Homo sapiens: one gene and its partners. The protein of the gene in region 4 interacts with the protein of the main gene of each other region in a biochemical or structural test. Each region holds a gene or a part of one and is shown on either strand. Other genes may lie near its edges.

Region 1 (7,700 bases), on a different chromosome or scaffold from region 4:
AAATGATCACCTTGGAATAGTGAGTTGGGCTCCCCCTGCTGTTAAGAAACAGACTAGCGTAAGTGCGCAGGTCTTGATTTCATTAGCTTTATTTTGGGCCATCTCCCTTAGATGAATGAAAATTATTCTGTGAACTTTTGGCGGGGGTTTGTTTTGAAACAGAGAATAATCATTAATTTATCAGATATTTATTTAAAAGGGATTTCTGACTCGGTGCGTAGAATGCTTACTTTACAATTCTGCTGTTTGTCAAGTGTTCCTATAGTTTTTTTTAAAGGTATGTTAACTATTTTTCCCTTTTGGTTTATATTTGTAGGAATCTTTGCCTTTAAGTGTGCCCGTGCAGAAGAATTATTTAACATGTTGCAAGAGATTATGCAAAATAATAGTATAAATGTGGTGGAAGAGCCAGTTGTAGAAAGAAATAATCATCAGACAGAATTGGAAGTCCCTAGAACACCTCGAACACCTACAAGTAAGTACCCCTTTTCCCTTTCACATTTTGAATAACAGACGTTTAGTTGTAAGCTATAGATTGTGGGTATTTAATCAATAACACACTAGAAATCACCACTGGATAACAGAAGTATAATGGTTGTCAGTTTTTAAAAACAGCTGTAGGCCGGGCGCAGTGGCTCACGCCTGTAATCCCAGCACTTTGGGAGGCTGAGGCGGGCAGATCACTAGGTCAGGAGATCGAGACCATCTTGGCTAACACTGTGAACCTCCATCTCTACTAAAAAAATACAAAAAAATTAGCCGGGCGTGGTGGTGGGCACCTGTAATCCCAGCTACTCGGGAGGCTGAGGCAGGAGAATAGCATGAACCCGGGAGGTGGAGCTTGCAGTGAACTGAGATCATGCCACTGCATTCCAGCCTGGGCGACATAGCAAGACTCCGTCTCAAAAACAAAACAAAACAAAACAGAACAAAAAAACACAGCCGTAGTTCTAAGTACTTCAAATATTTAAAAAATGAAAACATTCAGTATTTCATATTAGGTAAAATATGGAGTTGGGGGTAATACTATTTGTGCTCTGATTTCTGCTGTCTTGGCAGAAAGACCTCCTATAATCCTCAGTACAGATTCGATTCTTACTCATTTTTATTCTCTCTGCCCCGCCCCCCTTTTCCTTAAACCAATAAACAAAAACTCAGCTCCAGGATTTGCTGCTCAGAACTTACCTAATGGATATCCCCGATATCCCTCATTTGGAGATGCTTCATCCCATCCGTCAAGCAGACATCCTTCTGTGGGAAGTGCTCGCCTGCCTTCAGTAGGGGAAGAATCTACACATCCTTTGCTTGTGGCTGAGGAACAAGTAAGCATGTGCTACTGTGTAACAGCAATAATGATTGTTCAGAGTTAGGGTATCACTGTGCTAATACTGGAAGATTTTATTCAGCTTGAAGTTTAACTTTATCTGTTTGTAAATTACTTTTGTAGTGAACAATCAGAGGAGATAGCATATATTTGCTGGTTTATGCTCAAATATATGCGGGTATTCAGGGGAACTTACCATTACAGTAGCTTGTGGGTTCACAGAAGAGGTACATCTATAGATTAAGAAAGGCATAACTAATGGTCAGTTCCCATTATAAGAATGTCCAATGGATTAAGAGTTTATGCTGCTTTTCATATTTTAGCCATTATAGTCAGTGAACTACGAGTAGGAAGGTAGATTTTGCTGTTAATGTTATGGAGTTATTTAGTGTTCCCGAGTATGCTAGTTTTCATGTGTGGAATGAAGTATCTGGTTGGAACCTCTGTATTAATTAGTTATACTTATGTTTTGTAAACCATATGTCACATTAAAAAGTTTTTAGTGTTTTTAAAATCAGTTTCTTTGTGTTCTTTACATAATGAGTTGTTATATTATTTACTGTAATTACATGAGTCTTGGTCTGTCGCCCAGGCTGGAGTGCAGTGGCATGATCTCAGCTCACTGCAACCTCCACCTCCCGGGTTCAAGCAGCTCTCCTGCCTCAGCCTCCCAGGTAGCTGGGATTACAGGCGCAGGCCACCACATCCAGCTAATTGTTTCATATTTTTAGTAGAGACCGGGTTTCACCATGTTGGCCAGGCTGGTTTTGAACTCCTGACCTCAAGTGATCTGCCTGCCCCGGCCTCCCAAAGTGTTGGGATTACAGGCGTGAGCCACTGTGCCCGACCCTTGTAAATATTTTTATATTATCTCCCCAAAATACTATTAAGCTTTTCTAAATAGTGATAATTTCTTACTTGGTGGCATTTATTTTATATATATGCATTTTACAGAACTCTTATTAAATCTAGTGGAGTTAATCTTCTTATACATTCAGATCATCAGTAAATAAGGATAAACTTATCTCTTTTCAAAGTCGTTATTTATTTCTGGATCATGTTTTAATGCTTTGAGAACCTCTAAAACAGCAGCAAAATGATAATCCCTATTTTGTTCCTGATTTTTATTTTTTACATAATATTTATCATGTTTAACAATCAAATATAATGTTGCATGTTATTTTATTTTATTTTTTGAGATGGAGCCTCACTCTGTTGCCCAGGCTGATAATGTAATGGTGTAATCTCGGCTCACTGCAACCTCTGCCTCCCGGGTTCAAATGATTCATGTGCCTCAGCCTCCAGAGTAGCTAGGATTACAGGCGCTCACCACCATGCCCAGCTAATTTTTGTATTTTTAGTAGGGACGGGGTTTCACCATGTTGGCCAGGATGGTCTCGAACTCCTACCCTCAAGTGATCCACCCGCTTCAGTGTCCCAGAGTGCTGGGATTACAGGCATGGGCCACTGCGCCCAGCCTGCGTGTTATTTTGAAGTCGTTATTCTTTTATCAAATTAGGAAGACATTTCTACATTTCTCCTTCTCTTTCCACCTTTTTATTAATAAAAAAACAGGTGCAAAAGTTTTGAAGTAAGAGTACATTTGGAGAGAAAGTTAATACAGTTAACTGTTGTCAATAAAATTAACTGATGTGGTCAGGCTTTTTTTCAGTTTTGTTTTTTTAAGTAAGTTAACTAATTCACTTTCTGTTTTGTTTTAGGTACATACCTATGTCAACACTACAGGTGTGCAAGAAGAGCGGAAAAACCGCACAAGTGTGCATGTTCCATTGGAGGCGAGGGTTTCTAACGCTGAAAGCAGCACACCAAAAGAAGAACCAAGTAGTATTGAGGACAGGGATCCTCAGATTCTTCTTGAACCTGAAGGAGTCAAATTTGTTTTAGGGCCAACCCCTGTTCAAAAGCAGTTAATGGAAAAAGAGAAACTGGAGCAACTTGGAAGAGATCAAGTTAGTGGAAGTGGAGCAAATAACACAGAATGGGACACTGGCTATGACAGTGATGAACGAAGAGATGCACCCTCTGTTAACAAACTGGTGTATGAAAATATAAATGGGCTATCTATCCCTAGTGCCTCAGGGGTCAGGAGAGGTCGTCTGACATCCACCAGTACCTCAGATACCCAGAATATCAACAACTCAGCTCAGAGAAGAACTGCATTATTAAACTATGAAAATCTACCATCTTTGCCTCCTGTTTGGGAAGCCCGCAAGCTAAGTAGGGATGAAGATGACAATTTAGGACCAAAGACCCCATCTCTAAATGGCTACCATAATAATCTAGATCCAATGCATAACTATGTAAATACAGAGAATGTAACAGTGCCAGCAAGTGCTCACAAAATAGAATATTCAAGGCGTCGGGACTGTACACCAACAGTCTTTAACTTTGATATCAGACGCCCAAGTTTAGAACACAGGCAGCTTAATTACATACAGGTTGACTTGGAAGGTGGCAGTGACTCTGACAACCCTCAGACTCCAAAAACGCCTACAACTCCCCTTCCACAAACCCCTACCAGGCGCACAGAGCTGTATGCCGTGATAGACATCGAGAGAACTGCTGCTATGTCAAATTTGCAGAAAGCACTGCCACGAGATGATGGTACATCTAGGAAAACTAGACACAATAGTACTGATCTGCCCATGTGAGCCTGGAAAGCATTGTGTTGTTTGCACCTTTGTGAAGTTTTTAAAAATGAAGATGCAAGTGCTTCATTTTCATTTCTAAACACTAACTCCTTTTATAGACTGATAAAATTTTTTTCTGAATATTTCATGTGCATCTTTAACTAAAGGGAATTAATGTAGAGCAGGTACTCCTTAAAGAACACTAATTTCATTATATACTACTCGTTGTACAGCAGCATTCCCGTTTTCACAGTGCCTATTTAAAATGAGAGTTGAAGTAAATGACATGCTGGTTGATTTTTATCAATATTCTGGACTTAACGCATACCTTTCATGTCTAAGTCATGGTTGGCTTTTAAAACTTTTTATAAAGCCTCTTGACAATGTACATTGCTAACAGGTAACTATAGGCTTTGAAAGTAATGCTCGTAGATTCAGTGTTCACAGTATGTGGCCTCCAGCATGTAACATGAGGAATCCTTTATTTCATTAATTAATGGCTTTTTGACTTGAGCCAAAACATATGTAAAGGAAACAGAAGTACCGCACCTCCTCTTACACCAGTCAGCTCCTTTGCCTTCAGTGTTACTAGAAAGCGGCCTGTGTCCATGAGTGTGCTTTGCTGTTGGTGCACTGAAAGGCAGGAAGGAGACAAGATTTTCTATTTACTCATCTCATGATGTCATTTGAAGGGCATGTCCAGATATCTTAAAATTATAATAGGCTCAAGAATCAGTCTCAGGTCACTTTACCCAAAAACATTTGAAAATCTGAACCACAATCTCCTGAAAGTTTTTCTCCTATAGATTGTTGACAACACATTGTTTTCTGGAGGCATTTGTGCCATTAGGTTTCCATTTATCTTCAGTTTTTTTCTTTGGTGTTTGGGATGTCTTATTTTGTTGCCTTATGTCCTTTTCAATTTAAAATGTTTGAGTTTGTATATAGTTTTGAAATTGGATTATGTGTTCATTGTTGTTTAGTTTGCATTTTTGTCAAATTATGGTTTTGAAGGTTCATTTGGAACTTACTGTTAGTCTGTAACAGGGTTGCCCTTGTCCAGTATTTATTTATAAGCTGTTTACTTTTCAAGTTGATAAAAACATTCTCCAATTCTAAATTTGCTTGTGTCCATAGGTGATCTCTTTAGCAAACTGAGAAAAAAAGGAAGCTACTTTTAACATGCAAAGTTCCCTCAAGGTGTACCGTGTTGTCTCTGTGGGCACTCTTCCCCAGCACTTTAGCAGTAATTCCCCCAGCTACACGCTGCAGTTGTACTCTGCCCACTCTAGTGTTCCTCAGCTCTGCTGTCCTTTTACTTGTAGCTGGATCTTTGATTATCCTTCGATTTCCATGAAATATTAATATTGTTGCCAGCATAGCAGGTACAGTGGAAGTCTTGTAGCAGTGAGATTGTATCATAATTTAGGATTTAAAATGAATTAAAGTTTATATAAACTGAAGAGTCTCCATATGTCAAACTCTTGGAAAATCAAAGATGTTCCAATTTCCTAAACACTAGAGAATACGAGAGAAGGTAGAGTGGAAAAGGTTAGGTAACCTTGCAAAATATTTTACTATTTTCTCTAAATATGAGGAAGTTTGAGATTATGATCTGGATCTACCAGATATAACTAAGGTTAATTTAGCATGAAAAAGTTTTAGTCATATTGGCATCCAACCTATTCAGTAACCGAATCATAGGACAATGATGGATTAGGAGAACAATAGAGTGGGATCATTATAAAGAAAATAAATTATTAAAGGTGTCTTTATCGTTTTAGTGCCATTTTTAGTGTCTTTACTATAAATCAATATCAGTGTATTTTATCATTCTATGTGCATAGCAGAATTTTCTTTTCTCCCTTTTGTTCCCCTGTGAACTTGGTGCTTATTAAAGTGCTCACTGTTCTCTTAAAAGAGAGCAGTGGTATAGGTGTGCAGTTTCCATGATGCAGGTTCCATTTTTAATATATTGTTCCACTTATCCTTTCTTCTGAGTAAATTGCTAATTGTGCCAAATTTATGTAATAGTTTTTGTAATGTGGAATAAGAATTATGATGGAACCATTGCACATTTTTTTCTGAAACAGCCAGTCAAGGCAGAACATTAATCTCCAAATGCAAGGGCTGATCTATTTATTCATTTTGGAGGTTGGGTACTTTATTCTTTCTTTCCGTCATCCTTTTCATTGTTTCCCCCGGATTCTAATTAGTTTTTATTTTTTTTAGATAACTCCAATATAATCATTACAGTTTATGCTTTAAATACTATGTGCTTTAAAAAGGAAAATGGGACCAATTTGTCTGCTAAGAATTTGATTTTAGGTACTATAAGAGTATTAGGAAAATATATACAACTGGTGTTAATTTCTAGATATTTTCTAGAAATCACTTGTGTTCCTATTTAATAAAAGGTAATTTAGAATACTACTTGTCCTTTGCAGTAGTTTAGTAATGGGCATTAAGCTGTGTCCTCGAAGGATGTACCTATTACTAGGTGCATTTTAGAATGAAATATTGATATTTTATTAGCATATAATTGTGGCCATATATCTCAGATTTTCTGAGGCAGATCTAATTTTAGATAATTCTGTTGGTAGACCATGTGATCCTTCTTTTTGGTTTTGGAAATATAATCATTGTTAATGTTTTCCCTCCAAATAGAATACTGTTTTATCCATACAAATCATAACAGCATCTATCCCATGCTAGGGTTGGAAACTGATATTGGTATTACTTGTGTTTTTTCTTAGTGTGTTTTATTTCCCAGTTTCATCTTCTTCTAAAAATGAAAATATGGTGCCTTCCCTCCCTCCAGGAAGACTGGCAAATATTTCCTTTTATTTACTGCTGCTGTGGAGTGATGAGATATGCACTTTACTCTTTAAGATTCAGCAAAAAGCTTTTCACTTCTCAGTATATCCAGAATACATCATATCTGGGACTTAGGAAAATTTGCCAAGCAATCTTTGTTTTTATAGATACTAATGTTGACCCTCTCCAGCGTTCAATGTTATAAATAGAACAAGTCAAGCTAGTGTTTATCTCCTCCCCCTCCCCAAAACTGTGGCACAGCATATAAAAATGTACCTCAATAATGTTCTATTAAAAATGGGACAGGGGCCTTATGTTTTCATAATTTCCCAACAATGTGCCGCCATATTTTTGCCTCAAGGTAAAGGTTTTAACAGATGAAAAAGTACTTCCCAATTCCCCCGTGCTATTCCTAACCTATAATGCCCAAATGTTTTGTGCAATGTGTAGTGTGTGTGTATAAATACATATATTCTTGAAATAGACATACCATCAGAGACATCATTCACAAGTAACTGATGTATTGGCATCTCATTCATATTTCTGATGTGTGAGGTATATGGTACTAATTACCTTTTCCTTGATGTTTGCCAAATTTGAATAAAGGCATTGGTACGAAATTACAGAATGTAAAGAAAATGTTTTTGGCTTGAAAAATTAACATATTTTATGACGTACCACAGTATACTCTGCCCAAACCAGCACCCTATCTATCTTTCCTGTTCTTTACATCCCTGTTCCCCATCCCTACTTCCTCATTTTTGGTATAACACAGTTCTTTTGTAGCATCATTATAATTGCAGTTCTATGGCAATTGGACAGTTATAGCATGGAAACAGACTGGTATAAGTAGTACAGTAGTCACCAGTGTGCCACATTTGCATTAGTAATGCAAAATATACATTTTA
Region 2 (7,700 bases), on a different chromosome or scaffold from region 4:
CACCTTATACAAAAATTACTCAAAATGGGTGATGGACTTAAATATAAAAGATAAAACTATAAAACTTACAAAAAAAATTGAAACATCTTCAGGATATTAGGCTGACAAGACAAGACTGAAAGAAGATACTTGCAAACCACTTATCTAAAAGGGATTGATATCTAGAATATATGAAGAACTTTCAAAACTCAACCGTTAAAAAATAAGCAATCCAGGCATTTTACTGACATGGACGGCAAACAGGAACATGAAAAGATGCTCAACATTGCTACCCTTTACAAAAATGCAAATTAAAACCACAATAAGATACCACGACACATCTAGAAGAATGGCTAAGATAAAACACAGTGATGACACCAAATGCTGGCAAAGATGCAGAAAAACCGATTCACTCACACATTGCTAATGTGAATGTAAAATGGTACAACTGTGAGAAAACGGTTCAGCAGTTTCTTTAAAAACTAGACACAACTACTCTACAACCCAGCAATTGCACTCCTGGACATTTGCCTAGAGGCACGAAAACGTATGTTCACGTGAAAACCTCTACACAAATGCTTATATGAGTATATCAGCTTCATTCATGATAGCCAAAAACCAGAAACAACCCATGTCCTTCGACAGGTGAGTGTCTAAACAAACTACGGTACCTATTGTACATACACACCATGGTACACTACTCAGCAAGAAAAAAGAACAAACTTATACACACAACAACCTGAACGAATCTCAGGGGATTATATTGAGTTTTAAAAAAGCCAATCCCCAAACATTACATACTGTATGGTTCTTTTACATTACATTCTTTTTTTTTTTTTTTTTGAGACGGAGTCTTACTCTTGTCACCCAGGCTGGAGTGCAATGGCACGATCTCAGCTCACTGCAACCTCCGCCGCTCACTGCAACCTCCGCCGCTCACTGCAACCTCCGCCATCCGGGTTCAAGTGATTCTCCTGCCTCAGCCTCCTGAGTAGCTCTCCACCATGCCCGACTAATTTTTGTATTTTTAGTAGAGACAGTGTTTCACCATGTTGATCAGGCTGGTCACCAACTCCCGACCTTGTGATCTGCCCGCCTCGGCCTCCCAAAGTGCTGGGATTACAGGCGTGAGCCATCATGCCCAGCCTACATAATATTCTTTTTAAAAAATTCTGAGACAGAGTCTCATCTTGCTCTGTCGTTCAGGCTGAAGTATAGTAGTATGATCAGAGTTCACTGCAGCCTCAACCTCCCAGGGTCAAGTGATCATCCCACTTCAACCTCTCAAATAACCAGCACTACAGGCGTGTACCACCACACCTGGCTAATTTTCTATTTTTATTTTTTGTAGAGACAGTCTCACTATGTTGCCTGAGACTAGTCTCAAACTTCTGGGCTCAAGTGGCCCTTCTGCCTTGGCCTCCCAAAGTCCTGGGATGACAGGAACAAGCCACCAAGCCTGGACTCCATTTACATAATATTCTTGAAATGACAAAATGACAAAAGGAAAACAGATTAGTGGTTGTCAGGGGATTAGGGATATGGAGGACAGGGGCAGGAGGGGCAGCTATATAAGAAGACTGTGAAGGATCCTCCAGGGGATGAAATGTTCTATATCTTAATTGTATCATTGTCAATATATTGGTTGTTATATTGTCCTACAAATTTGAAAGATGTTACCATTGGGGGGAAAGTGGTTAAAGGGCATGGAATATCTCTCCATATTATTTCTTACAACTACATATGAACATAACAATTATCTAAAAATAAAACTTCAATTAAAATAATGAAATATTGATCTTAACTTTTTTTTTTTTGAGATGAAGTCTTGCTCTTTTTCCCCAGGCTGGAGTGCAGTGGCGCAATCTCGGCTCAATGCAACCTCCACCTCCTGGGTTCAAGGGATTCTCCTGCCTCGGCCCCCTGAGTAGCTGGGATTACAGGCACCTGCCACCATGCCCAGCTAATTTTTGTATTTTTAGTAGAGACAGGGTTTCACCATGTTGGCCAGGCTGGTCTAGAACTCCTGACCTCGGGTGATCCACCCGCCTCGGCCTCCCAAAGTGCTGGGATTACAGACGTGAGCCACCACACCCAACCTGATCTTAATCTTTAAGAAGGCATAGCAGGTGGAAAGTGGGAGAGGCTGGGGCAGGGAGGACCAGACTTCTCTAAGAATCTCATACAAGCTGCAAAGCATTGTCTCAGAAAAGTCACCTGCATCCTCTCACTGGAGCCTAGTTAACAACTCGGCTTAAGAACACAAGACAACCAGTTAACAATTTTGTTCTCTGGGATCCAGGGCATAAACAGAGGGTGAGAACACTAGTGAAATAAAGGCAGCCCCCACAACTGCTCTGCAAAAATCAGCTTCCAAATACTTATCCAAAATGTAGCCATCTGCATTCTAGAAAGAAGCTATTTTAATTTAAACATTCACATATATCATGTGGCATTTCTAAACTCACAATTTTATTTTGAATTTCACAGGAACGGGGGGGTCGCACCATAATCTCTTCAAGGCTTAGAATCTCCAAAGGTTTAATTTCCACCCTACTAGGATCAAATTCCTAGAGTAAGAGAAAAATCAAATTTGCCCTTCCTCATTTCACAAAAATAGAATAGAAAAATATCCTCAGGCATCTTTTCACTTCAATATTTGACCTGTTACTCAGATTAATTCCTCTTTAACTATAGTGAATACATTAATCTCTTGTTAATAATACAAATCAAAAATTAAATTGTCAACTCCTTGAGGATGGTGATTGTATCTGCCTTATTTAAGGTGGTTAACACTAATAGGTACTCAAGAAATATTTGAGGAATGATAAAACAAATGGAAGAAAATATATTCCAATGAAAACTAAGTTCTTAAAATACCAAACGATTCCCCACAAAAATTACAAAGCTGCTTTAAAAATAAATATTTCTAGTCTTCTAATAAATATGATTTCAAAAATACATTGGCAGATGTGGGGACAATCATATCACTAATTTGGTTTATGTCTATATACAAAGTCACTAAATTGGCCACTCTGCTTAAATCAGTTTTGGGGATGATGATGTAAAGGCTGACTTTATGCACAATTAATCGTCTCATCCACATGGACAATCAGATGAAGACGACTGAAATACCAGCTGGAAAGCCCTTCTGACATGGAAACCATGTCAATGAAGCTGATTCAAATGAAGCCAAAATAACTGAGTCGTCCCAGCTGATGCATGTATATATATGCAGTCTATCTGGCCATAAATTTCCCTACTGGTAAAGTTATCCCAAAGCCTCTTGTTCTTAAAGAGTAACTAAACTTCACATATCTTACTGAATAGTTGCATGAGTTCATATGTGCATATATGTGCATGTGCATACATATACTTAAATAACAATAGCATATGATGAGGCCGGGCACGGTGGCTCACGCCTGTAATCCCAGCACTTTGGGAGGCTGAAACGGGTGGATCACCAGAAGTCAGGCATACAAGGCCAGCCTGGCCAACATGGTGAAACCCTGTCTCTACTAAAAATACCAAAATTAGCCAACTGTGGTGACATGTGCCTGTAGTCCCAGCTACTCAAGAGGCTGAGGCAGGAGAATTGATTGAACCCAGGAGATGGAGGCTGCAAGTGAGCCGAGATCACACCAGGACACTCCAGCCTAGGCAGCAGAGCGAGACTCCATCTCAAAAGGAAAAAAAAGGAGTATATGAGTTTATTCTATCTGTATAATTTTCATACTACGATTATGACTTTGTCATGGTACCATAAAAAATGCATGGATTCCTGAACATCTAAATCTAAAATCCTCAAATGAAACATGAAAGCGTTTGTGGCATACCAGGTCAGGTGAAACTATAAAATGAAAGAATTAGAAAATGTTTATTTTTAAAACCTGGCCGTGAGCTGACCAATTTTTAAAATTTCTTCTCTACCACAAAAGAAAACAGTCCCCAAGTTAACAAAAATACCTCCTAGTCCAGTGAATTCACTCGAATTGGAGTTACATGAAGAGGCATTTCTCCTTATTTTATATCTCTACCATTTGTGTAGAATCATAAAAAATCTTATAAAGGCGAAATCTTATAAATTCCTTCTGTATCAACCATCAATGCCAAGCAACATTTGGTACTTGTACTAAGTTTGTTTTCCTAACTAAAAAACAAGTTCTTTGAGGATATGAACAATTGCAGTAGAAACAGTGAAATAATAACCAGTTAAGTGTCATTGTCTCTAACCACACTGGAAGTAGGAGTGAGAGCCCTAATAAACATTAATTGGGTTTTTACTGTGTCAAGCACTGTGTTAAGCTCTTTATGATCATCATCTATTAGGTGAGTAGTAAGAGTCTCCATATTTTTACAGAAGATGGAGGCTTATAAATATTAAATAACTCACCAGAAGTCACATAACCAGCCAGTGAGTTGGGATTTTAACGCAGTCACATGTCAGAGCCTATGCTCTTAAGCCACAACACAGTGATGGGGTCATTAATTTATTCCACAAATCTTCATCAAATGCCCACTCTGTGCTGGGCCCTGCACTAGGCACTGGGGGACAGCTATGATTAAAGAAGAGAGAAACAAGTCCCAGCCCTCATGTAGCTTCACATGTCCTTGGCAGTACATAGGCAATACAAAGATAAATGAAGGAGAGGGTAATAAGTCTAGGGAGAAAAAGGGGCAGGGAAAGAAGGAAAGGAGAGGGAGAAGAAATAAAATAGAGTGGTCTGAGGCCGGGCACGGTGGCTCACGCCTGTAATCCCAGCACTTTTAGGAGGCCGAGGCTTGTGGATCTCAAGGTCAGGAGTTCGACACCAGCCTGGCCAACATGGTGAAACCCTGTCTCTATTAAAAATATAAAAATTAGCTGGGTATGGTGGTGCATGCCTGTAATCCCAGCTACTTAGGAGGCTGAGACAGGAGAATTGCTTGAACCCAGGAGGCAGAGGCTGCAGTGAGCTGAGATCACGCCACTACACTCCAGCCTGGAAAAAAGAGCAAGACTCCGCCAAAAAAATATAGATAGATAGATAGATAGATAGATAGATAGATAGATAGATAGATAGATGATAGATACATGATAGATAGATAGATGATAGATAGATAGATGGTAGATGATAGATAGATAGATGATAGATAGATGATAGACAGATGATAGATAGATGATAGATAGATGATAGATAGATAGATGATAGATGATAGATAGATGATAGATGATAGATAGATAGATGATAGATGATAGATAGATGATAGATAGATAGATGATAGATGATTGATAGATAGATAGATAGATAGATGGAGGCCTTAAAGGCCTCATTGAGAGGGTAGGAGCTGAGAAAAGGCTGAAGGAGGTGAGAGAGCAAGCCAGGAGGAGGTAACTGGGGAAACAGCATATTCCAAGCAGAGAAAACAGTGAACGAGAGGGTTCTGGGGCAGCATAGGGCCTCATGGCCCATTGTAAGACTTCTCTGCAGTATATGGAAAGTCACCAATGGTTTTGTTACCAGACAGGGGTTCTCATCCAGACCCCAAGAGAGGGTTCTTGGATCTCTCACAGCAAAGAATTCAGGGCAAGTCTGTAAAGTGAAAGCAAGTTTATTAGGAAAGTAAAGGCATAAAGAATGGCTACTCCATAGACGGAGCAGCCCCGAGGGCTGCTGGTTGCCCATTTTTATGGTTATTTCTTGATGATATGCTAAACAAGGGATGGATTATTCATGCCTCCCCTTTTCAGACCAAGGGTAACTTCCTGACGTTGCCATGGCATCTGTAAACTGTCATAGCACTGGTGGGGGTAGCGCCACGTAGCAGTGAGGAAAACCAGAGGTCACTCTCATGGCCATCTTGGTTTTGGTGGGTTTTGGCTGGCTTCTTTACTGTAAACTGTTTTATCAGCAAGGTCTTTATGACCTGTATCTTGTGCCGACCTCCTATCTCATCCTGTGACTTAGAATGCCTTAACTGTCTGGGAATGTAGCCCAGTAGGTTTCAGTCTTGTTTTACCCAGCTCCTATTCAAGATGGAGTTGCTCTGGTTCACACGCCTCTGACAGCTTCAGCAGCCAGGTGACATGACCTTTCTTACATTTCCAAAGGAACACTTTACTGTATTGAGAAGGCACTAGCGGGAGCAAGAGTGTAGGCAGGAAGTCAAATGAGAAGACTGTTGCAATGTTACAGGGAGGAGATGAGGAGGGTTCGGACCAGGGTCGTAGCAGTGGATAGCGTGAGGTGACAGCCGGATTCTAGATATATTTCAAAGATACAGCCCACAAGATCTCCTGATGGATTGCCTGTAGGGGTGGGAGATGAGGGGAGAAGAGTGAAATGACACCAAGGTTCGCTTGTGATTTTTACCTTCGCAACCAAAATGCTGGGACCTCTAGTGGCTAAGATGGAGAGGACTCTAGGAGCAGCAGGTCTGTGAGTCATCCAAGTGGAGATGTGGGATAGACAGGAGAATTTACATGAGTGGAGGTCAGAAAAGAGGTCCAAGCTGCTAAGTCCTTGGTAGACAAGAGCACAGAAATGTCACTTAAAGGCAAGTAACTGAGGGATTGTGCGTAGATAAATAAACCCGAGTTTCCGTTCTGAAACTTGCACTGTGGGCAAGCCATGACAATGATTGATTGGAAAATCATCTCCATTGCAAGGAAAGAAACGAAGTGAGAATTGTTATATGATGCTATCTAAGTCACACATTCAGCAGGTTAATGTTGTACAAATTGCCTGATTTGCCTCTCCCCTAAAAAGAAATTTTTAGTGCATTTAATCGATTACTCAAATAATTATGGACAGCTGCTCCCCTCCTTCCCCCAGCCCCTCAAATAGTAACGTCGACATTCCTGAACAAATTCAGTACCCAGGGCACAGCTGGAGACCTCCAGGAAACAATGGGGATTAAGCTGGGGAATACAGATGTGAAGATACTGAAACTTTTGAGTTAAATGAATTATATTTCATTAAGCTTTTTGATGTCTAAAGAAGAGAATAAATCTATACATATTTGATTGCTTAATCATTTAAACTCTTTAGGATTTCAAATGAAGGTGACCACTTATCTGTGACCCATTTGAATGGGAATGTTTTTAGAATGTTTCCTGTCCTGTTAAAAAATCACATATATAAATATACGTATATTATATATTATACAATATGTACATAGGTTGTATGTATATATTTATTCCTATGTATAAAAATACACACACATACACATATATGTATATAATTTGTAAAAGTTTCATCCATTGAAAAAATCTGGAGCTGCATAAACATTTATGCCTTTGTACACTTCTACATAGAAAGAGAAGGAAATAGATAATTCCTATATCCGTCTACCAATCCTAACTCATCTTTGATTAAAGAAAATGATACAAGCAGAATCAATGTTCTAGACTTTCATTGCATTTTCACAAATATCTTCTTTAATGCTCCCAAGAACATTAAATAGTGTTCATTGTACAGACTAGGAAACTGAGGCCAAGAAAGGTCAAAGGTCAACAAGCAATAGAAGCAGAATGCGTTCCCTTCTCCTCTTTCTCCAAATCTGAAGAAGCATTTATTCCTTGGCACCAGGAACAGCTGCTTACCATGAAATGTTTTTGTATTTAATTATAAACCGTCCCAAACATGGTCTGGATTCCATTAATAAATGCTGTTGTATTAGTTCCTAAAGGTTATAAATGGCAAGACCATCCATGCACTATATAGTTCAGCACATATTTC
Region 3 (7,700 bases), on a different chromosome or scaffold from region 4:
GGCACCTCTGTTGGTGGGTACTTTTTCTCCACGCCAGGGGCTGTTGGCCTTCATGTTCGGCCTCCTGTTGGTGATTACCTGTGGCACTGGCAAAGAGACTGTTTCCAGGCAGGCACAGGTGAAGGCTGCCTTATGCCAAAAGGGCCACTGGGGCCACTCTTCCTCGGAAGAGCAGAACCGTGGGCACAGCAGATGTGAAGCAGTTCTCCATATGTGGCTGTGTGTGCGGGTGGCAGTGGGATGGCCACGTGCTTGTGTGTATGTGATATCGTGTATGTTTTGTGTGAGACAGCATATGTGTGGGAGAGACCTCGTGTGAGAGATGCTGTGTCAGAACTCTAAGACATTGTGTGTGAGAGTGTGTGTCAGATGCCATGTGTGAGACACCAAGACACGGGTATGTGATACTCTGTGTATATGTGAGTCTGTGTGAGAGACACTGATACTCCAAGACATTGTGTGTGTGTGACACTGTGAGACACCAAGACAGTATATGTGCGAGACAGCCTATGTATGTGACAGTGTGTGTGTGAGACACCATGAGAGACTGTGTATTTACTGTGAGAGACTGTGTGAGAGACACGTGTGAGACACTGTGTATATGACACTATGTATACGTGAGACTGTGAGACACTATGTGTATGTGACACTGTATATGTGTGAGACCGTATGAGACAGTGTATATGACACTGTATATGTGTGAGACTGTGTGTGTGAAACACTATATGACACTGTATATGTGTGACACTGTATATGACACTATATGTGGAGACTATGTGTGAGACACTATGTATATGTGACACTATGTATGTGTGTGACACTGTGAGAGACACTGTGAGACACCAAGACAGTATATGTATGAGACACCCTGTGTGTGTGACACAGCGTGTGACTGTGTGAGACGTGTGTGAGGCACTGAGACTGACACTGTGTGTGAGGCTGTGTGAGAGTCAGTGTGTGTGATAACTGTGTGTGTATCACCGTGTGTGTGTGTGAGAGAGGGAAGGAGAGAGAGGGAGGCAGGTCAGAGGGAGTCAGGTGTCCTTGGCGAGAGTGGCAGCAGCCTGCCTGGAGGGACCCTGGGATGGCCATTTCAGCACCTAAGGGGTAGCCTGCCCGGGTGAGTCTCCAGTCCACTGTGACTCAGTCATTGTGCCTGTGATCCCCACCCTCCATCTGCTTGCTTCCCCCCCATTTGTCTTCCCCAGCCCCCTCCGCCCCTCCCCAGAAGGTGATGTGTGTGAGCATGGGCTCCACCACGGTCCGGGTAAGTTGGGTCCCGCCGCCTGCCGACAGCCGCAACGGCGTTATCACCCAGTACTCCGTGGCCTACGAGGCGGTGGACGGCGAGGACCGCGGGCGGCATGTGGTGGATGGCATCAGCCGTGAGCACTCCAGCTGGGACCTGGTGGGCCTGGAGAAGTGGACGGAGTACCGGGTGTGGGTGCGGGCACACACAGACGTGGGCCCCGGCCCCGAGAGCAGCCCGGTGCTGGTGCGCACCGATGAGGACGGTAGGCAGTGCCACCGGGGCGGGAGGGGAGGCGTTCTGCCTCAGACACCACCCACCAAGCTCCCCAGGGCCTTCCTTTCCTGAACACAGGCCCAGGTCAACTCATCTTTCTGGTTCAGGTGTAATGGCCTAAAGTGGGGGGATGTCACTTACGGGATAACTGAGGCCCAAATCCCAGCCTTTGGGGCTGTCTCCAAAGCAGCTGAAACCTTCACAGGCTAAGATGGGAGAAGCAGCCCTGTCTAAGATTTGAAAGGTCAAGATTGGGCAGATTGGTGTAAAAGATACTCAAAGTAGAATCAGCAAGACTCCACGTTGGCTGGACATTGGCATGATTGGGGCCTAGGAGGAGTCAGGACAGGTTGTGCTGACTAGGGGTGGTCAAAGACCTGGTGCCCCACCTCCACCTGTTCCCCCATGTCGACCCTCCCCACCAAGTGAGAGGCCTGGGCCAGAGGGGTGGGCAGGGCCAGTCCTGGGCTCTTACCCGTGGCGGGCAGAGGGAGCCTTCCGTGTGCCTCACCAGGGACAGATGATCTAAGGAAACTGTATCAGGGCCTTTCCTGGGGGAGTGGGGTGCTGAGGCAGGACCCTCAAGTTTGCTGTGCCCACCTGAGCTAGGGTTGATACCTCCAGGCCTGACTTCCTTCTCTACCTGACCCCCCAGTGCCCAGCGGGCCTCCGCGGAAGGTGGAGGTGGAGCCACTGAACTCCACTGCTGTGCATGTCTACTGGAAGCTGCCTGTCCCCAGCAAGCAGCATGGCCAGATCCGCGGCTACCAGGTCACCTACGTGCGGCTGGAGAATGGCGAGCCCCGTGGACTCCCCATCATCCAAGACGTCATGCTAGCCGAGGCCCAGGTGCAGCATTGGGTGGTGGTGGGGTGGCAGGGTGAGCACAGACCAGCATGCACAAGCTCCCTTTTGGGGCCCAGATATGTCCCTCTTCCCCTGCCTGCCCTCAGCAGTGCTGTGACTGCCTTTCCTTGGTTGTGAGACCCGAGATGCTTTGCAGCATCAGGGGTTAGGCTGGGGTTTTTTGGGTGTGGGTTTTTTGTTTGTTTGTTTGTTTTGAGATAGAGCTTCACTCTTGTCGCCTAGGCTGGAGTGCCTCCTGGGTTCAAGCAATTCTCCTTCCTCAGCCTCCCGAGTAGCTGGGATTACAGGCGTCTGCCACTGCGCCTAGCCAATTTTCGTATTTTTAGTAGAGACAGGGTTTCACCATATTGGCCAGGCTGGTCTCGAACTCCTGACCTCAGGTGATCCGCCTGCCTCAGTCTCCCAGAGTGCTGAGAATACAGGTGTTAGCCACTGTGCCCCACCAGGTCGGGGTTTTGAGATGTGCCTTTCCCCTAGACAGTGCTGGGCTGGCATCCACTCTTCCCACAGAAAGGGTAGAGAGAGTGCTCCAGGGCTGTCTTACCCCACTGGCGGCCATGGGTCCGTGGTTGCTGCAAAGCTCTGTGAGTAGCCAAGTAGAGTGTTGCCCTGCTCCTGGCCCTGCAGGGAACGATTCAGCCCCTGATGTTCACCCTCAAGAGCTAGGCCTGCTGGCCAGCCTCACACCTCCCTCTGTGCACATCTGTCTTCCTGGGAGGATGGTCCTGCCCTTGAGCTTGGGGTGAGGTCCCTGGGGTATTCTGAACACTGGTTGCTATTCAGATGAAGAACTTGGAATGCTGGGGGGTTATGAGAGTGGTATGGAATTATTCAGCAAGTAGGTGGCTGCTGCGCTTGGATGAGAAGCCATGTCTGTGGACCCCTAGGAAAGGGCCACAGTTGCTGTCATGAGCCCCCTCCCAAAAGACCCTGCTGGAGAGTCACAACACCTGGTGTGGTGCTCTCAAGGTCTCCCTATCCAGGAGCAGGGCCTCCCCATTGAGCCTCTCACCTCTGCCTGGGTGGAGAGCAGGGGTGCGTGTACCACTCAATGCTGTACACACTGTGCAGAGGGGTGGGGTCACCCACACAGACAGGAGCCTTATTCCTCCAGCTGGGCTCAGCCATCTGAAGCAAAATTCTTTCTGCCCAGAGGGTGCTCTCTTCCCCCTCTCAGCCTGCCCAGTGCTAAGGCATCCGGGGTGGAGGAGGCAGGCATGTGCACCCACCTGCATTCCTGGGGCAGGTTGAGGGCTCCTTGTGGAGCCTCAGTGAACACACCTACCCAGAAACATCCCAGGAATGGGTTCCCCTAGCCCCTCCTCTCTGAGGGGGCCAGTGGCCACAGCTGTGGCCAGTGGGGTTCCAGAGAAGCCACTTCAAGTGCCCCCTTCTGGTCCCAAGAGGTTCGGAAGGGAGCTGGGCCAGAGGCTCAGGGACGCTGCCCATTTAGTCTCAGACATCCCATCATGGGGGCGGTAACTCGAGTCTGGGCTCCCGGAGGACACTGAAGATGGAGGCCTGCTCCGTAGCCCTCTCAGGACTGGGTCATTCTGTTCCTCGCCAGTGGGAGAGCAGTGGGGCCTGGTCCCGAGCGTGGCCACAGGGCCCAGCTGTCCCTGTGCTTCTGTCAAGGGCGGCACATTCTGTCCTTCACGCAACAGCACCATCCCCTCAGCTCATCCCCCATCATGCCTGAAGGAACTATGTGGTGCAGGTTCCCACCCCCAGCCTGGAAGTGTGGAGCCAGACCTGTCTCCTTTTACGTCAGATTCCATCTCCCTGCCTCCCTTTTTCCCCTCTCGTGGCCTGCATTTCTCTCTCCTTCTTGGAGTCTCTGTTTTTGTCTTGCTCTTTCTCTTCTCTCTCCTCCTTCCTTCCCTCCTCCCCCTGCCATTCCTCTGACCCCTTTCCTTCATCTCCATTTGGTTTCATCCTCCGTCCTTCCCTTCTTTCTTGCTCTGCCTCTAGCGCAGGACAGGGTCCATGTGATGTGAGAACCTCCACGCCAAGGCTTGGTTGGGACAGCCCAGGTCTCCCCGCAGGCAAGGAGACTGGAAGGGACGTGGGCCCAGCCACACCCTATAAAGTGGCCATGCACTAAGGACCTGTCCAGAGTCTCCTCTCATATTCTGTTCCATGCTTCTTGCAAGGACTTTCCAACAGAGTGTCCCAGGACAGGAGGAACTTAGGCCACCCAGCATGGAGGCCAGTGGACAGAGGCCAGACCGGCACTGTGGGGGTGCTTGGGCTGGAGGACCCCAGGTACTTCCGGCTTGGAGACATCCTGGACCATCTCCCTGTGATGTTTCATGGGGCCTCAGAATGGAGACCTCACAGTCCCTCCACCTGTCCATCTAGAATATCTACATGCACCAAAGGCCCGCAACACTGCCAGCCCCGAAACATTCCTTCCTACCTTAATCCTCAGACACCCCGAGGAAGGAACGGGTATAGGTGATTTCCCGTGCCTGTGGGCTACAGCCCAGGCTCTGAGCTTGGCACTCACAGCCTTCATAGTCTTGCTGACTGGCTTGCCCTTGGGCCCACCCTGGCCATGTGCCCTGTTCACCCCCAACTCTTACTGTTGTGGGACACTTCTCATGCCTGGGGTGATTGTGTAATGTATGATCACATCTGGGATGCTTTGGCGGGTGGAAGGAGACACTGAATAGTCAATTCCATGGCAACAAGCACAGGCCAGGACTGTCCGAGGCAAACCAGGGCATATGGGCACCCCATTCACCCCTCAGTGTCTTCCTTTCCCTTGGCCTGAGCTGTTGAACCCACCCTTCTTGTCTGGCAGCCTCTCCCTCCCAGCAAGCCCAAAATTGTCAGAGCATCTGTAGCTGCTTTGTGTTCTTAGGGCCTTCTGTCAGCGGGTCCTCTCCCTGCAGGCTGCCTGCCCTCCCTGTCTCCCTACCCTCCTCAGCCCTGGCACACCCAGTTGGTGCTCAGTGAGGCAGGGATTCAAATCTTTGAACCGGGAGTTGTTCTGGGGTGCTACCCCCATGGGTACTTTGAGGCCCAAAAGCCCTCCCTCTGTCCTCCCTGGGCAAGGTCCCTTCCAGGCCAGGCCCTCTCCAGGTCAGAGTCCTTCACCATCCTGTCTCCCTTTCTCTCCCTCTCCCGCGGTCAGTGGCGGCCAGAGGAGTCCGAGGACTATGTAAGTAACAGGTGTGCGAACGCGGACAAGACATGGGTCAAGCTGGGCTCGTGGGACGCTCCTCCTCTCCCTCCTTTCCTGCTAGCCTGCACTGCCAAGATCCACAGGGCTCTAGCCACATCAGGAGAAAATTGGCGTTTAGACACAAGCACTGAGCTGAGCAGCGATTGGCATTTCCTCTAATCCTTACTTCTTGCCTGTCGAGCAGCAATTTGAGGCCAGTGTTCATGATCGACCAGGGCCTGGCCCCTGCCCCGGCCAGACAGGGATGGAGTTAAATCCAATCCTGATCGTTAGGCCTTATTGATCCCTGGAGTGAAAAATCACCTGCTTTAGGGCCCAGGCTGGGAGGGCTGTCTGGAGAGTCGGATTCTGGCATTGGTGCATTCTGGAGCCCCAGCCCTGGGAGACCCTCCAGCTGTGGCAGGAGGGGTCCATGAGGGGGTGGTGGCAGCTGCAGGGGCCCCACTCAAGGCCAGAGCTGGAGGGATACCAGGGTTGATGACGGCTCTGTTCCCACTGCACGGTGGTCCCTGCCCTGCTTCCCACTCTTCTCTCTGTGTGGTGTGGCTTGACCTCCCATGGTGTTTCTCCGCATGTCCAGAGATGATGCCTTTGCTGCAGATGGGTATATGGGCAGGGTCTGCCAAGCGGGGAGGACATTGCCCTGGCTGCTGTCTCAGGCATCACTGAGAACAGATGTGGAAGCCAGTTCCCCAGGTGTGGAGGTTTTCTTATTCTCCTAGCCCCTCCCCTGCCTTTCTCAAGAGGTATTGCAGGGTATAGACATTCACAGAGTTAGTGGCCTATATGGGGGCAGCGGAGTCCTGACTGGGTCCTATAGGATGGCACCTTAGCCCATCCTGCCACCTTGCTCTGTCTGTGCATGCATGCACTGGTGTCCACAGGCAGCCTTACGCCTGCTTATGCAGGAGCTGTAGGCTGTGTGCGTGTGGCTGCCAAGAGCCACGCAAGGTGCTGGGTGCGTGCGAGGCTGTGCCCTGTTGATATCCTCAGTCTCCGTTCACAGCACAGTGGAGTGAGGGAAACAGTCTGGCCCTTTGTTCTTGTCTGAAAAGAATAATGAGCTGTCTGCCCCAGGCGTGCGGCTCCTGGGATGGGCGGGGTCCTCCCAGGCCTGCATCCTACCTGCCTGCTTCCTCTCCAGCAGAGGCCACCATTGTATAGCCCCACCTTCCACAACCCCTGGCCTTGTGTGCCCCGGGGCTCCCCTCAGGCTAGGGTCCTGAGGTCCCTGACAAGGTCTGGCCTCTCCCTGCATTCTTGTGATGGGAACGAACCCCTCCTCCTCCCTCAGGAAACCACTATCAGCGGCCTGACCCCGGAGACCACCTACTCCGTTACTGTTGCTGCCTATACCACCAAGGGGGATGGTGCCCGCAGCAAGCCCAAAATTGTCACTACAACAGGTGCAGGTGAGTGAGGGGTCAGGACGGACCTGAGGGTGGGGCAGCAGGAGGGCAGCGCCAGAGCCCAGCCCGTGGTCCTTCAGTCCCAGGCCGGCCCACCATGATGATCAGCACCACGGCCATGAACACTGCGCTGCTCCAGTGGCACCCACCCAAGGAACTGCCTGGCGAGCTGCTGGGCTACCGGCTGCAGTACTGCCGGGCCGACGAGGCGCGGCCCAACACCATAGATTTCGGCAAGGATGACCAGCACTTCACAGTCACCGGCCTGCACAAGGGGACCACCTACATCTTCCGGCTTGCTGCCAAGAACCGGGCTGGCTTGGGTGAGGAGTTCGAGAAGGAGATCAGGACCCCCGAGGACCTGCCCAGCGGCTTCCCCCAAAACCTGCATGTGACAGGACTGACCACGTCTACCACAGAACTGGCCTGGGACCCGCCAGTGCTGGCGGAGAGGAACGGGCGCATCATCAGCTACACCGTGGTGTTCCGAGACATCAACAGCCAACAGGAGCTGCAGAACATCACGACAGACACCCGCTTTACCCTTACTGGCCTCAAGCCAGACACCACTTACGACATCAAGGTCCGCGCATGGACCAGCAAAGGCTCTGGCCCACTCAGCCCCAGCATCCAGTCCCGGACCATGCCGGTGGAGCAAGGTGTGTGCTGTGGACATGGCATCCCTTCCCGAGTGTGGCTGCATCTGGGG
Region 4 (7,700 bases):
CAGGGGTTAAGTGAGGCTGGCCTGCCTCTGTGTCCAGCCTGGAGAGAAGCCAGGACAAGCTTCAGGGCTGCGTGAGGCTGTAGGAGTTTGGAGACACACGGGAATCATCCGGGTACACTCTTCTGCCAGACCCGAATCCCTCTTCCAGTGGGGCTAAAAAGGATTAGGAGGTTTCGAGAGAGGGAGTAAGTGGGGCTGGAAAAATCCCAAGGTTTTGATTTAGCAAATGACCTGCAACTCTCTGGAGAAGCGGCAGTTCCCAAGGAAAGCCTGACTTCTTATCAGCAGCTGGCTGCCCTTGTACCTGGCAGGGACTTGGGCCTGTCCCAGGTGTCCAGGGAGGAAAGAGGAGCAGTCAGAGCCAGAGTCACGGCCACATGTGACATTGGTAATGGGAGGGGTGGGGGGGAAGCAGAGCCCCTGTGACAGGAAACGGTGATGCTGCACCTGGTAGCTCCCATCCCTAGCACCCCTCCAGGGCCACAGCTTGCACAGCCCTCACAACCACCCTGAGCCCTGTCTGCTGGTGAGAGGCAAGCCTCAGGCTATGAATGCAGAGCAGGCATCCCTGCCCTACCCAGGCCTATCTGCCAGGGACAGCCAGGGTGCAGGGGAGGGAGGAGACTTGGGTGGGCAACTCCCTCCGGCGCAGCCCAGGCAGTTCCTGGAGGAGGCAGCATCTGAGGTTGGTCGTGGTTCTACGCACTTAGTTGCTGCCCTCTTCATCCTGAGCCTCCAGGGTGGAGCTTGAGGAATGGGAGTCCCTGGGTGGGGGCCAGTGTGGAATTTGCCCTGGGCCTGCATTTCGTAGGAGGCCTAAGCCCTCCAAGGTGGGGAGAGGCTTCATGCACAGCCAGTTCCTGTGGAGGAAGAAACCACAGGGTAATTTAACAGGGAGAGTTTGTGTAAAGAATTAATTACAACAGGGGATTGGAGCAATGAGGGACAGGCTAGCAAAAAGCAAAGAGAATGCCAGAGAATATGGGAAGAGCAGCTCTGAGGAGCAGCCGCCCACCTAGGGCTGAGATGGAGGCTGGGAAAGCCCTCGCAGCCCAGCTGAAATGGCTATGGCGCTTCGGTGATGGAACTTGCCGGAAATGCCCCCTCTAGGCATTGGGGAAGTATGTCTGCGGCCACTCCAAACCTCCTGAGGAGGGTGTGGCAGGGGGGGTGCTGGTCACCCCTTACTGGAGAAGTTGCCACCATCAGAGTTGGGGAGCCTTAGACCCAGTGCTCAACACACCTCCCTGAGGAAGGGGCCTCTAAGCCAAGAACTGAATGATGAGAGCTAGGCCTGTGGGGCATTGGTGCTGGGCAGCAGGGCTGTGCAGCAGAGGTAAGGAGGTGGCAGGCAGAGCTGGAACACCAGTCTGAGCCTTGTGGACCTTGGTGGGGACCAGGGTTTACACCAGCCCTGGAGCTCCTGCCTCCTCCCCATTCCCGACTGCCTGGCAGATGTGGCCGATGCCCCCACAGACCTGACTTCTCTCTGCAGACCGCGGCTTTCCCCTGCTCACCGTCTACCTCAAGGTCTTCCTGTCACCCACATCCCTTCGTGAGGGCGAGTGCCAGTGGCCAGGCTGTGCCCGCGTATACTTCTCCTTCTTCAACACCTCCTTTCCAGCCTGCAGCTCCCTCAAGCCCCGGGAGCTCTGCTTCCCAGAGACAAGGCCCTCCTTCCGCATTCGGGAGAACCGACCCCCAGGCACCTTCCACCAGTTCCGCCTGCTGCCTGTGCAGTTCTTGTGCCCCAACATCAGCGTGGCCTACAGGCTCCTGGAGGGTGAGTGCCGACCTTGTGGGGCCGCCCCACAGTGCCTGCTACTGCTGGTCTTGCTCTGCGAGCCCTTGACACAAGCCATCTGGTTTATTCTTCACCTTCATGCCATCAGTTCATTCAATATTCCAGAAGTACCTCTTGCATGCCTGCCAGGGGCCAGGTACTGTTCTAGGAGCTAAGGATATAACAATGAACACAACGGGTTGGAATCTTGCCTGCCTGCAGCTTTCATTCTTGTGGGGCAGACAGAGCGTCTGAGCATGCCAAGGAAATCAGGTGGCTTCTGGAAGGAGCTAGCTGGGGAGGAAACTGGGAAGAGGGAAACGCTGAAGAGGAGGGGAACAGACGAGGAGACCTCCATTCCTCTATCGTAAATTGGGTGGTCAGGGTGGGGGCTAGCAGAGCAAAGGTGGGAGGGTGCCGGGTAGGCAGGCCTAGCCCCTTGGAGGGCACCACAGTGTGACCCTCGTGTGCCTGGAGTGCACTGAGCGACAGGGAAGAGCTGAGGCTGATGGGGCAGAATAGTTCCTGGGGCAGGGGGCAGGTCTGGGAGTGGCTTGCAGGGCTTTCTCCGGAGGAACATGGGGAGCTATGGAAGACTTTGGAGGGAGGGAGTGCTGGCAGGACCTGACTTAGTTTTAAAAGGATTAGTCAGACTACTGTGTTAGGAATGGTTTGGGGTGGGAAGGTTCAGGGGCGAAGCTGGGAGACAATCAGAAGGCTACAGGAGAAACCTCTGAACAGGAGGATGTGGGGTGTGATGCCGGGATACGGGTGGAAGCCGAGGCATGGCGAGAAGCAGGCAGCTGCAGCCAGTCAGAGGGTGGGATGAGCTGGATCCCAGTGGAGAGGGGAGAAGGCAGCTGACTAGGTGCAGGGAGGCCCCATTTGACCATCAGAAAGTCAGGAAGTGGGGCTCAACCAGGTCACAGAGGCTGCACCGCTGGCAAGTGTGTCCTAAATTCACACTAACTTTATCACACAAACATGGCAAGAATATTAAAATCTCAGTAAAGGAAGACAAGCCATCACTTATGCTTCCCCAGATTCCTTTCATTCTCTGGGGCAGGGTTGATGGAGCACTTGGTTTTTTGCATGCTGCCCTTTTTCACTAAAAATTATGTGATTAAATTTAGTTTAGTGGGGGGTTTTTTGTAATCACACTCAACAGAGGAAAGCATTATATGATAAGCATTTCCCACATACGTAATTCATGCGCAAGGCATGGTTCTGCCTGGGAGGCTTGTGGAGTTGCCCCCGCCTCCTTGGGGTGGGTTGTGGGGTCTTCAGCGGTGACCTTCCGCCTTCAGCATGCCCCCTTTTCTGGATTATTTCTGGAGGACAAATCCGAGGTCAGGCTCGTTGAAGACTGTGTTGTGGTTCCTGGCCCTGCTTCAGGGGCGATGTAGTCTAGCGCGAGCTGCCATGCAGGGCACGGAGCATTCGCTTTTGTCTCGACATCCGGCCTTCAGAGGATGACCAGCCTGGCGACGCACTGGACAAGGAGGTGTAGAGTGGGGATGCACACTAGGCGGTCGGAAATCATTATGCGTTAATGTCACATCATACCCCAGATGTCCACTGTGTTTGTTTTCAAGTGGTAGAATCGTGGCTTTCTCACGTTCTCTAAAATGAACACATATTGCTTCCATAATTGAAAAAAAAAAAAACCTAACAGTTTTTAAAAAGCAGCCAAGGTCACCAATATGGTGAAAGGCCGTCCCTACTAAAAATACAAAAATTAGCCGGGCATGGTGGCGGGCGCCTGTAGTCCCAGCTACTCGGGAGGCTGAGGCAGGAGAATCGCCTGAACCCGGGAGTTGGAGGTTGCAGTGAGCCAAGATCGCGCCACTGCACTCCAGCCTGGGCAACACAGCGAGACTCCATCAAAAACAAAAAAAAAGCAGCCAAGGCCAGTAGCTGGCTCTCTAGGGCTGCAGTGCAGCTTGGGCTGAGGCAAAGCCACCCTTCCCCACACAAGGCCACTCCTGATCAAGGCCAGGTGGGCGGAGGGGTGTCCCAGTCCCTACTGGTTGATCAGGGTGCCTGGTCCTGGCTCTTCCCAACCAGCACGAGTGAGGACGCAGCTGCAGCAGGACGTAAGCACAGTCATCGCTGCAAACTGCAAACTCGTAAGCACAGTCATCGCTGCAAACTGCAAACTCGTGCTCCGAGCGCTGCCCTCCCCTGTGGAGCGGAGGAGGGGAGGCCTGGGGCCGCGGCGGTGTGCGCCCCGCTCTGACCGCAGAGCCCCCTTCCCGAGGAAAGCGGCTGGCCCGGTCCCGGCTGGTGATCACGCGGGGCCCCTGTCTGCTTGGTGCGCAGGTGAGGGTCTGCCCTTCCGCTGCGCCCCGGACAGCCTGGAGGTGAGCACGCGCTGGGCCCTGGACCGCGAGCAGCGGGAGAAGTACGAGCTGGTGGCCGTGTGCACCGTGCACGCCGGCGCGCGCGAGGAGGTGGTGATGGTGCCCTTCCCGGTGACCGTGTACGACGAGGACGACTCGGCGCCCACCTTCCCCGCGGGCGTCGACACCGCCAGCGCCGTGGTGGAGTTCAAGCGGAAGGAGGTGCTTGTCCGCGCGTGCTGTGGTCTACCCAGTGTCTGTCTCCGGCCACAGTTCGTTTCTCGGTCGGTTTAGTGTCCGTGTAGCCACCCAACCGTGTGGCCGACCATTCGCGCTTTCATTTGTCCTTCGCCTCCGTCTGCGCCGTCTGTCCTAGGGGGAGGGGAAGGGGGAGTCCTGCCAGCACCCAGCTGGGCCTTGCCTCGGGAGGCAAGGACCAGGACGAGGCCCGAGGGCTCGCGTCTGGGGCATACTTGTGCCGCTGCAGGCGGGCGCGGCGCGCTGCCCGGGCGGGGAGCATCTGCCGGGAGGGCACTCCCTCCCACCAGCAGTTAGCCCCCAACGGGAGGGCCCTTGAGTGACCACGAGCAGAGCCGGGGATTGGAGAAGGACGGGAAGGCGGATCACCTCCGGCGCCGCCCGCCCCGCCCTTCTCCGGCTCGCGCTGGTGGAGCGCGACCGCCACCTGCTGGGCCTCGGCCTTCCTGCAGCCGGCCCACCCAGCAGGGGCCGTGGGAGAGTGGGCGTGGGGACTGAGGTAGGTAGTACGTTGCCTTGTTCCGCTTCTCTGGGCACACCACGTGCAGGTTTGGCAGGGAAAGGGGGTCTGGTCGAAAGCACAATTTGTGAGTAAAGGCTATGTGGGCCTCCCTGGGGTGACAGCAGAGGCCTGGTGGGCAGAGCCATCCAGGTGCCCAGCGGCTTTCCTCACAACCCCCTCCAGCCTGGGGTAGGAGGATGCTTGGAACAGAGCGCTCTGATGTACACCTGGCCTCGGAGCTCGGCTCTGCCGGCTGTTCCTGTGTGACCTTGACCTGACCTTCACCCTGTGGGGCCCAGCTTCCTCAGGGGAGAGTGGAGGTGCTCATCCTGCTCTCTGGGGACCTGGATGGGACCTGCCAGCAGGGTGCCTGGGCATCGGCTGTAATTCTCCTTATAAGAGGTCTGCATTGTACCTGTTACACAGGCGAGGCTCAGTGGCTCAGGGAAGGTGACGGCCAGGCTGGCCAGTGACCCCGTGGGAACTTGAACCCAGGTCAGACTGTCCCCAGACCTGGCTCTGACAACACACATCTGGTCCACCTATGGGCTGTGTGGGACGTGCAGCATTCTAAGGTCTCTGGTTTTGGGGGGTCTGAGGGGCCCATCTCGCCTGCACTGACCAACGCCCTCTGCATCCTGCAGGACACCGTGGTGGCCACGCTGCGTGTCTTCGATGCAGACGTGGTACCTGCATCAGGGGAGCTGGTGAGGCGGTACACAAGCACGCTGCTCCCCGGGGACACCTGGGCCCAGCAGACCTTCCGGGTGGAACACTGGCCCAACGAGACCTCGGTCCAGGCCAACGGCAGCTTCGTGCGGGCGACCGTACATGACTATAGTAAGAGGGGCTGGTGGCACGGCCTGGCTAGGCCCCCAGGAAATGAGGTGCTCGCTCTTCATGGGCAAGCAGCACCCTACACACATGCACACCTGGCATGGCCCTCTGTGGCCCAAGCCACTTCCCCTCCACCCTCTGCCCAGCACTTCCTGTGTCTCTGCCAGGCCTGCCCTCCAGCCACCAGCAGGGCTTTCACCATGGGACCTCTCTCCCTGAGCTGATCCATGGCCGACCCTGGCAGGGCCCCACCACACCCCCCTGCTGACCTCACCAGGGCTCACCACCGACTGCAAACACACATGTCACCTGAGGCTTTCCTCCAGCCCCTGGCACTCCATCGTTGCCCCTAAGGCGTCCCAAGTGCTTACGGATTATTGCTCCAGCCTCAGCAGCTCTCTGCTAAACAGGCTGGTGTACAGAAGCAGCCCCGAGCCAGGTCAGGGCTTCTGAGCCCATTATCCTGCCTGACTGCTGACATGCCACCATGCTCACCTGCTTGCAGGGCACCTTTCAGCAGCGGCCTTGCTTCCTGCCTCCCTCCGCCACCTCCTGCAGATTTCTCCTGGGATCGCCTTCCAAATAAACCACCTGCATTTGGGGTCTGTGTCTGGTGGAACCCCAGGCCATGAGTCCTTCACCCCTTTCTGCCTGGCCTGGTCCTGTTCATTCCTCAGTCCTCCCCACCTCACCAAGCCTATGGAGGCCCCACTTGTCAGAGGGGAGACAGCCTCCTTGCCCTGGCACTGAACACCCTGTGTGCCAGAGTGCCCCTCCCATCATTGTTTCCACCACATGAGATCCACAGTGGCAGCACGCGGCAGGTACACCGATGGCATGACTTCCAGGGCTTGGCCTGCGGGGTCATTGGGTCTGCTGGAGGTTCCTGCAGTGGAGGGTAGTTCTGCCATGCTCTGGGGGAGCTGTCTGGAGGGCTCTAGTGTGTCCTTCCCAGGGCCTTGGTAATGTAGACCTTTAACCCCCCATGCCTCACACACACACACACACACACACACACACACACACACACACACCCTGTTACCCAAAAAACGAAACTCTGTAAAACATTTTAAAGAGGTTTATTCTGAGCCAGGATGAGTGACCACAGCCTGGAGAAAACACAAACCCAAGAAGCCTTGAGTAAGTGGTCCCCAGGTCCAAGGTGGTGGAGTTACAGTTTGCTTTTATACATTTTAGGGAGACAGGAGTTACAAGCAAGGACATAAATCAACACACAGAAGGTATACATTGGTTTGGCCCCAAAATGCAGGGTATCTTAAAACAGGGGCTTACAGGTTAGAGGTAGATGCAGAGATTCTTTAATTTACAGTTGGTTGAAAGAGTTAAGCTTTGCCTAAAGACTTCAGGTCAGTACAAAGGAATGTTAAGGAGGCCTGCTATGTGTCGCCTGATGCTATACAGGGTCAGGAGGGAAAGTAAACCACGTTATACCTGGGTAACTTAAAAAAAAAAGGTTTTTAACAAGATTTTATGGACCAGGCATAGTGGCTCACGCCTGTAATCCCAGCACTTTAGGGAGACCGAGGCGGGTGGATTGTTTGAGTCCAGGAGTTCGAGACCAGCCTAGGCAACATGGTGAAACCCTGTCTCTACAAAAAAAAAAAAAATACAAAAAATTAGCCAGGCGTGGTGGCACATGCCTGGATTCCAGGAACCTGGGAGGCTGAGGTGGGAGGATGGCTGGAGCCTGGGAGGTCAAGGCTGCAATGAGATGCAACAGAGCAAGACTCTGTCTCAAAAAAGAAAACCAATGTTATGGTTTGTAGGGTGTTTCTTAACCCTTGCCTGGCATGGCCTTAGGTCCTGTTTATAATTTGGTATCTTACTGCCACAAAGAGTCCGATCTGTCAGTCTTATGATCTCTGTTTTAATGTTAATGCCGGTCAGTTGTGTCCAAACTCCAGCAGGAAGAGGGCCTAATAAGGCAAGTCCACCCTGCCTTCCTGTCATGGCCCAG

The links.
Region 1: the proteins of RET (region 4) and FRS2 form a complex in vitro, tested with the Homo sapiens proteins (one study listed by BioGRID).
Region 2: the proteins of RET (region 4) and DOK5 form a complex in vitro, tested with the Homo sapiens proteins (one study listed by BioGRID).
Region 3: the proteins of RET (region 4) and PTPRF form a complex in vitro, tested with the Homo sapiens proteins (one study listed by BioGRID).

The regions. Positions count from the first base shown.
Region 1 is NC_000012.12:69,570,960-69,578,659, forward strand, and holds part of FRS2 (fibroblast growth factor receptor substrate 2), read left to right. Parts: intron 1-316; coding exon 317-475; intron 476-1,158; coding exon 1,159-1,322; intron 1,323-3,045; coding exon 3,046-3,996; 3' UTR 3,997-7,700. UniProt on the Homo sapiens protein: Adapter protein that links activated FGR and NGF receptors to downstream signaling pathways.
Region 2 is NC_000020.11:54,478,476-54,486,175, reverse strand, and holds part of DOK5 (docking protein 5), read right to left. Parts: intron 1-7,700.
Region 3 is NC_000001.11:43,596,540-43,604,239, forward strand, and holds part of PTPRF (receptor-type tyrosine-protein phosphatase F isoform 1 precursor), read left to right. Parts: intron 1-1,208; coding exon 1,209-1,514; intron 1,515-2,180; coding exon 2,181-2,374; intron 2,375-5,531; coding exon 5,532-5,558; intron 5,559-6,876; coding exon 6,877-6,994; intron 6,995-7,071; coding exon 7,072-7,650; intron 7,651-7,700. UniProt on the Homo sapiens protein: Possible cell adhesion receptor. It possesses an intrinsic protein tyrosine phosphatase activity (PTPase) and dephosphorylates EPHA2 regulating its activity.
Region 4 is NC_000010.11:43,100,847-43,108,546, forward strand, and holds part of RET (proto-oncogene tyrosine-protein kinase receptor Ret isoform a precursor), read left to right. Parts: intron 1-1,495; coding exon 1,496-1,783; intron 1,784-3,918; exon of another isoform or gene 3,919-4,105; coding exon 4,106-4,347; intron 4,348-5,529; coding exon 5,530-5,725; intron 5,726-7,700. UniProt on the Homo sapiens protein: Receptor tyrosine-protein kinase involved in numerous cellular mechanisms including cell proliferation, neuronal navigation, cell migration, and cell differentiation in response to glia cell line-derived growth family factors (GDNF, NRTN, ARTN, PSPN and GDF15).